2 separate regions of the Homo sapiens genome follow, and region 1 is linked to region 2. Evidence: fine-mapped expression QTL. Tissue or cell type: blood mononuclear cells. Region 2 holds a variant in brackets; the other region holds the start of a gene. All regions are shown on one strand. Distances are from middle to middle.

Region 1 (4,163 bases), 62 kb after region 2:
CCAGCACTTTGGGAGGCCAAGGTGGGTGGACCACTTGAGGCCAGGAGTTCGAGACCAGCCTGGCCAAAATGGCAAAATCCTGTCTCTACCAAAAATACAAAAATTAGAGAGTGGTGGTGGGCGCCTGTAATCCCAGCCACTCAGGAGTCTGAGGCAGGAGAATCACTTGAACCGGGGAGGTAGAGGTTGCAGTGTCGAGATCACACCACTGCACTCTAGCCTCGGTGACAGAGCAAGACTCCGTCTCAATAAAAAAAAAGAAGTTCACTAATTATGGAAAAAATATTTAAGTTGTGTGTTACAACAACTAAGACTTTTTTAAAAAAGAATACTGATGAGAGACAACTTGCCCACCAGTATTCATAAAGCTACAAGAATTGGAACACAATATTACTGACTTATTTACCAGATACATTGTTGACCACCTACTGTATACTAGGCACCATTGCATGGGGTAGGGGTGGATACAGCTGTAAATAAAACAGATAAACTCTCCGCAATCATGGATGTTATAGCCGAACAGGGAAAAGCATCAATGGAACAAATTAAAATTCTACCAACCTAAATGGTTCAAATACACATGTATTTATGTATGTGTGTGTATATATATATTTCATTCAAGATATGAAATAAGTGACATTTCATATCAACGAAGAAAAAATTACTAAGTAACTTGTAACAAAGGCTTACCATTTGGAAAAAAATAAAAATGTACACAAAAAATGAAAGTACTAAGAGAAACTACAAACATTTTTGTAATCTCGTGGGACAGACAGCTTCTCTGCCAGTGATGTCAAACACCCAAACGTGAAGAAAAGGTTTTCATGTGTGACCATAAGAACCTGTGACGTTTCTGCACAGTCAGGAAACATGCTTATGTATCAGATACAAAATTAAAATACAAAATGCAAACTGCGTGAAAATATTCATTAGTGTTCAAAATGCAAATGTAAACAATCCTATCTTTTGCACCTCTCAGAAGTTCAAGAGAATACTAACATTCACAGTTGGTGTGGGTAAATCTGGCACTCTTACACTGCAAGTGTTTATATAAACTGCAACTTTTCTGGAGGGAATAAGACAGGAGGTATCAAAATCCTTACTGTACCCTGGACCTAGAAATTTCACTTTAAGAGATTTATAGAATAAGACAAAATGCAAAGATGTATGTAGCCAGATGGCCTATACTGTTTATAATACTGAAAAAAAAAAAGAAAAAAGAAAACCCTAACACAAAAACCTAAGGAGAGGATTCAATACGACACATCCATACTTTCCCTCACACTCATTAAAATGACGTAGCTCTATTTAAAATCTGGTATAAGTAGATGGTGTCAACATATTCCAATGTTTTTTTCAGATGTATTCTCTATCTTCATTGGGTGTTTAGGCCAGTAAAAAATTACAAGGCTTAAGATTTGTGCACTTCAAACCCCTTACCAAATGCATCTCATGACTCAGTTTTAAAAGATAGATGGAGAAAAAGCTGCTAATATTCATATTTCTGTTTAAAAACAAAGTACAAAGTGTTTCTATGCTTATACACATATCCACGCTGCCATGCAGATGGAGATAGATTTTGAATGATTGTTTTAATCTCAATTTTCCAGTTGTGCTACAGTGAAATCGCTTAAGGAAAAAAAGAAAAGATTCCCCGAGGTCGAAACCTGCACCAGGTTGGCCTCCCCATTCTTATTGTGAGATGGGAGGGGAGCCCACGCCAGCGCTCTCGGAATGAGATCCAGAGGGCGGGTCCGGAGACCCGGTTTACACAAAGGGCAGATGCTGCACAGGGAGACCCAGCCTCTGGCCCAGAATCCCCGGGATGTCCGCGGGTTAGGTTCGCTCCACGGTCGCAGCGTGTCCCGGGACAAAGCTGCGCGCGGCTGGGGAAAGCCAGGGAGGAACCCGGGTCCGAGCGACTCTTGGAACCTTGGGCCCCTCCCTGACCCGTGGTGGCCGGCGTGGCCCTTGTTCGAGCCCCCATCCCCGCTGCTCCGGGGCTGTGATTCCACCTCGGCGCCTGCCCAGGACAGCGCCGAAGGACACTCAGCTGCCAGCGTGCTCCCGCCGCCAGCTCCTGGGGAAGAGGGAGCGCACCTGGAGCCGGAGGCCCGGCGCTCCACAGGCGCAGTGAGGCCGCACCCCCGGCCCATCTGCTGCGGGCCCGCCCCTCAACCCTCAGGAAGCTGGGGCCTCGCCCCGCAATCCGGAGCTCCTCCTGCGGGGGCCTACAAGACTCACGGATGGCGCGCGCCCCCGCCACCGGCCCCGCACTCACCCTCTCCCAGCAGGAGCGGGAGCAGCGGCGACCGACACAGCCGCGACCGGCGCTTACAGCCCGGAGCGCCAGACTACATTTCCCACAAGGCTGCGGGGCTGCAGTGCGGCCAGGCCGTCGGCGTGTGCGAGAACGGGGCCCCAGAGGGCAAGGCTGTGCCAGTGGCCAGCTGAGGTGGCCCACGGTGTGGCCTCTGCAGGTCATCGGTGTGTCCAGGCGGGACGCGGGGTTCCCAGGCGGCCCCTTACCCCGGCTAAAGTCGTCTCTCTGGCCAGGCCTGCAATCTCAGCACTTTGGGAGGCGGGTGGGTGAATCACCTGAGGTCAGGAATTCAAGACCAGCCTGGCTAACATGGTGAAACCCTGTCTCTACTAAAAATACAAAAAAAATTAGCCAGGCGTGGTGGCGGGCACCTGTAGTCCCAGCTACTCGGGAGGCTGAGACAAGAAAATCACTTGAACCTGAGAGGCAGAGGTTGCAGTGAGCCGATATTGCGCCACCTCACTCCAGCCTGGGTGACAAGAGCAAGAGAGTGTCTTAAAAAAAAAAAAAAGGCATTAATTTACCAGCAAATAAAATATTTTAAACTTTTATGTATTTAATAACATAAGATACAAAATACATAAAGCAAACATGGGCAGAACCCATTTTTAATTTTGTTTTCTTTCTTTTTTGTACAGATGGGATCTTACTCTGTTGCCCAAGCTGGTCTCAAACTTCTGGGCTCAAGCAACGCTCCTGCCTTGGCCTCCCAAAATGCTGGGATTATAGGCGTCAGCCACCACCCTGGCCTCAGAGTTTTTAACCTACCTTCTCAGTAACTAATAGAAAAGCTGACAAAAAGGTCACTATAGATATGAAATATTTGAAAAGCAAAATTAGTTTTATGTTAATGAATAGACATGTAGACTACTCCACCCCAAAACTGAAGAAAACACATGGAAAAGCATATATTTACTTAAGAAATGATCTCATACTAGTCTGTAAAGTAGCCTCAACACATTTCAAGCAATTGGTATCACACAAGACCATATTCTTTGACAATGTAATTAAGCTAAACATTTTTTAAAAGACTAGAAACTTTTTAGAAAAGATTTAGGTAAAGGGAATATTTAGAGGAAATTTTGCAGCCTTCAAAGCATACAGTAAAGAAGAAAAGAAGGCAGATTGGGTACAACACATCTAATTTTGTTCCCTCCTAACACGTACTGATATAGTTCAGGACACACACACTCACTGCCAAAATATGGCACCTCATCATTTGAGAAAACAGCAGAAACAGGAAGGACTTTTCCACACATCTCCCACGAAGCAGGTTGTAAAACCTAGGAAGAATTTCCTAACGTCCCCTGAAGCAGGTCGTAAGATTCTCATGTGAGATTTGCACTCCCTATACCTGGAGGAAAGTAACATCTTTATTGCTGAAGACACACAGTCACAGAGAAAACTCTTGAACAAACAGGCCTTGCTAAGTTGCCCCCAGTGTATTACTATTAGATCATATCCTCTTTGTCCATTTATATTTCTCTGTGACTTCATCAAATTTAGCATAAAAATACACAACTTTAACTGTTTCTTTGGGACTTCATTTCCTTATGTAGGCTGCTGTGTCATGTAAAACTTGTATTAAAGAAACTTGTATGTTTTGCTCTTGTTAATTTGTCTTTTGTCTTAGGGGTCTCAGCCACCAACATAGGACGCGCAAGAAAAATGTATTTTGCCTCCTCTGTACCACTAAAAGCAAATGTAACAGATTGTTTGAAAACTTGTTAATTCACAAGGTCAGGAAAAACAAGTAAGGACACACCAGCAACATTTTAAATCTTGGAAACGGATGTTATTTTCTTGGCAAACCTGAAATAATGCCAAATCCCAGAGAGCT
Region 2 (4,163 bases):
AAGAAAAGGAATGGGCTGGACACAGTGGCTCATGCTTGTAATCCCAGTGCTTTGGGAGGCCAAGGCAGGAGGACCGCTTGAGTCTAGGAGTCCAAGACCTGACTGGGCAATATGGTGAAACCTCGTCTCTACAAAAAATTTTAAAAATCAGCCAGGCATGGTGATGTGTTCCTGTAGTCCCAGCTACTCAGGAGGCTGAGGTGGGAGGATCGCCATAAGCCCAGGAGTTCAAGGTTGCCATGAACAATGATCACACCACTGCACTCCAGCCTGGGCAACAGAGCAAGAACTTGTCTCAAAAAACAAAAAAAAGAAAAGAAAAGAAAAGAAAGAAAAAAAGAAAAGAAAAGAAAAAAAGGGGCCGGGCACGGTGGCTCATGCCTGTAATCCCAGCACTTTGGGAGGCCGAGGCGGGTGGATCACGAGGTCAGGAGATCGAGACCATCCTGGCTAACACGGTGAAACCCCGTCTCTACTAAAAATACAAAAAATTAGCCAGGCGTGGTGGTGGGCGCCTGTAGTCCCAGCTACTCAGGAGGATGAGGCAGCAGAATGGCGTGAACCCAGGAGGTGGAGCTTGCAGTGAGCTGAGATTGTGCCACTGCACTCCAGCCTGGGCAACAGAGCGAGACTCCGTCTCAAAAAAAAAAGGAAATGATCTCAACAACCCAATAAACACATTTGACCTCAAATTCTCAATTGTCCCCCATTAGTCTACACTTTCAGCCCAATTCTTATCAAAATTCCAGCAGGAATTTTGTGAAAATTGAATAGCCAATTCTAAAATTCTAAAAGAAGAGGACAAAACTGGAGAATTTACGTCAGCAAGTGTAAGGCTTATTATAATGCTCGAGTAATCTAAAGCAATGTTGTGTTGGCACAAGATTAGACAGAAAGAATGAAAGAGAATAGAGTCCAGAAACAAATCTGTATGCAAACAGACCAATGGAACAGATTATGGAACCCGGAATGAGACCCACGTACATGCAGTCACCTCATATATGACAAAGGTGACAGTGCAGTACAATGGGGGAAAAGGCAGTCTTTCTAGCAAGTGATCCTGGGTCAACTGGATACCCCTATAGAAAATAATGAGCAATCAATCTTCCATATGGACTGTAGACTCAAGTATTTAAGACAAAATACTACAGCTACTATAGGAAAACACAGATCTTCATGTGCTTAAGATGTCCTAAATAGAACACAACAAGCGTTAACCATAGGCAGAAAAAGAAAAAAAAAAGACCTCTGATGAATTCAGGTATCTCAAAATTCAGAATTTCTATTTATCAGATGACATCATTATCCAGAGTGGGAAACAATATTTGCATATATATGACAAGATTCTGCATTTCAAATATACAGCCCTATAAGCCAATAACAAAAGATCAGACAACAAAATAAAAGTGGGGCAAAGATGTATAGATACTTTAAAAAAGAGGGTATTGAAATTCTAAAAGTAAGAAGATCAACTTCAGTTATAACCATACATCCTCTAGAATGGTAGAAAACCTTTTGTAACGATAATACTACGTGTATAAGAGTTGATATGGAAACCTTGCATTTCGCCGGTAGGAGTATAAATTAGTATAACCACTTCGGAAAACTATTTGGCTCTGTCTGTTAGAGTTTGCATATGCATAATCATAGCACTCCTAGCTATTTAATCAAGGAAAATGTGTACCTATGTTTTCTAAAAGTTGCAGAAGAAATGTTCATAATGGTACTATTCGTAATAGCTCTAAGCTAGAAATAAACCAAATGTCTAGCAACAGTAAAATGTACAAATAATGACAGGTTTATATGGCGAAACATTATATAGCAATGAGAATGAACCAACTATTGTTCCAAGTGACAACAAGGATGAATCTCAGACATACTGTTGAAAGCAAGAAGCCAGACACAAAAGAGTACATACTGTATGATTTAAAGTTTAAAAACAGGCAAAACAAATCTATTGCCAGAGTAGTTGTTACCTTTACGACAAAAGAAACTGCGAGGGGACTGGGTGGTTACAAGGGGTGCTGGTAACGTTCTATTTCTTGATGTGAGTGCTGACTACACAGATATATTTAAACAGTAAAAATTCACTGAGTTGGACATTTATGATCTATGTACTTTTAGTATAAAGATGTATATAGAAAACAGTTTCTGTATAAA[T/C]TTCAAAAAAGTTTGCTTTAAAAAATCTAGGGGACGGCTTTCAAAAATAATAAAAACACCAATTTCTAGCTTTCTTTTCTATCAGCTATTGGATACTGACATCTATTAAAACCTTTTATTGATTGTGATTAAAAACACATCATCTATGTATAAGAGAATACATGACTTGAAATATTTTTTGAGGGTAATTATTTGACTTTTTAAATATTTTATATTACATGATAACACTCATCTTCAAATAGAGTTTACCAAGAGGGGAGTCAAATGCATCCCGGTTTGACCACACTGAAAATTAATTGAGGTGTGAATTAATCCAGTTCAGTAAGACTGGTCTTACTGGCACTGATTTAGCCTGCAGTACAAAAGAGCACTCTGGTGTGAGCAACTCAGGCACACTCACTGGGTCCCAGGTCACTTCAGGGTAGGCTAAATTAAGGAGACCTACCCCTACCTACATTGGAGGTCAGGAGATCGAGACCATCCTGGCTAACACGGTGAAACCCCGTCTCTACTAAAAATACAAAAAATTAGCTGGACGTGGTGGCAGGCGACTGTAGTCCCAGCTACTCGGGAGGCTGAGGCAGGAGAATGGCCTAAACCCAGGAGGTGGAGCTTGCAGTGAGCCGAGATCGTGCCACTGCACTCCAGCCTGGGCGACTGAGTAAGACTTCGTCCCCAAAAAAAATAAAATAAAATAAAAAATAAAAATAAAAAAGATGGTTTTAAAATCCTTAATGTAGGCTTTGAAGTGGCATGCAAGTAGTATGTTCCAAGCCTCCTATATAATGTTGTCAAGAGGTCACACCCAGGGAGGGACCAAACGCTAGACCAATTCACTCCTCAATCACCTAAAGTTTCAAGAATTGGTCCCATCAATTTTATCTCGAAGTGGAAGTTAGGACGAATAAAATAAGAAAGACTGGGCCGGGCGCGGTGGCTCACGCCTGTAATCCCAGCACTTTGGGAGGCCGAGGTGGGCGGATCACGAGGTCAAGAGATCGAGACCACCCTGGCCAACATGGTGAAACCCTGTCTCTACTAAAAACACAAAAATTATCCGGGCGTGGTGGCAGGCGCCTGTAGTCCCAGCTACTCGGGAGACTGAGGCAGGAGAATCGCTTGAACTCGGGAGGCGGAGCTTGCAGTGAGCCGAGATTGTACCACTGCACTCCAGCTTGGTAACAGAGTGAGACTCCATCTAAAAAAACAAACAAACAAAAAATACAAAAAATTAGCCGGGCATGGTGGCGGGCGCCTGTATTCCCAGCTACTCGGGAGGCTGAGGCAGGAGAATGGTATGAACCCGGGAGGCAGAGCTTGCAGTGAGCCGAGATCGTGCCACTGCACTCCAGCCTGAGTGACAGAGAGAGACTCCGTCTCAAAATAAATAAATAAATAAATAAATAAATAAATAAATAAATAAATAAATTAAATAAAATAAAATAAAGACTGGTTTAAGGTCAGTTTACCCTGACCTTAGGTGCCCAGATCCTCTTCCCATCCTTTTCCCAACTCAAGGGAACTGGGGGATTTGCCCTTTCTCAATGTGGCAAAAGACTTGAGGCTTTTTTTTTTTTTTTTTTTCTTTTCAGGAGAGCAAAACAAAGTTGCTCTGGACGGAAGATGCCTGGGGCGGGAGAACTGTGTTGGGGCCGGAGAACTGTGTTGAAGACTGAAGCCCCACTTACCCAGAACGTCCAAAAAGGACGTTAGTCTTCCCACTGCCTGGATAGGCAATGAGGGATTACTAGCTGTAACTGAGGAAAGCTTCTCACAAGAAAGAAATACCAAAATCATCAAACAGAAAACTAGAGAAAACGGACCCAATGATGGGAGAAGAAAATGTCTTTGAAAATCATTATCTTTAAATGTAAGATATTTTAACTGTAAAACAGGAATAAGAGCTTATTTTTGAAAAAGGCAATATTCAGAGAAACAAGAGTTCTTGGAAATCAAAAATGATTAGAGGATTCAAAAACAAAATAGAGTTCCTTTTGTAAACA

Evidence for each region. PIP is the estimated chance that this variant, and not a neighbour inherited with it, causes the effect.
Region 1: it holds the start of ZFP2, and the variant in region 2 is fine-mapped to the expression of ZFP2 in blood mononuclear cells (TOPMed, PIP 0.95).

Annotation. Positions count from the first base shown.
Region 1 is chr5:178,894,093-178,898,255 of GRCh38, reverse strand. ZFP2 (ZFP2 zinc finger protein) reads right to left here and starts at 2,343. Exons shown (of 5, transcript NM_030613.4): 1 at 2,282-2,343. RefSeq lists silencers at 2,101-2,150, 2,221-2,330 and an enhancer at 2,441-2,630.
Region 2 is chr5:178,956,101-178,960,263 of GRCh38, reverse strand. The region is part of intron 4 of ZNF454 (zinc finger protein 454); the gene reads right to left. Among named protein-coding and RNA genes, the nearest start is that of ZNF454, 17 kb to the right of the region's middle. The variant T/C (reference allele first, on the strand shown) is at 2,161.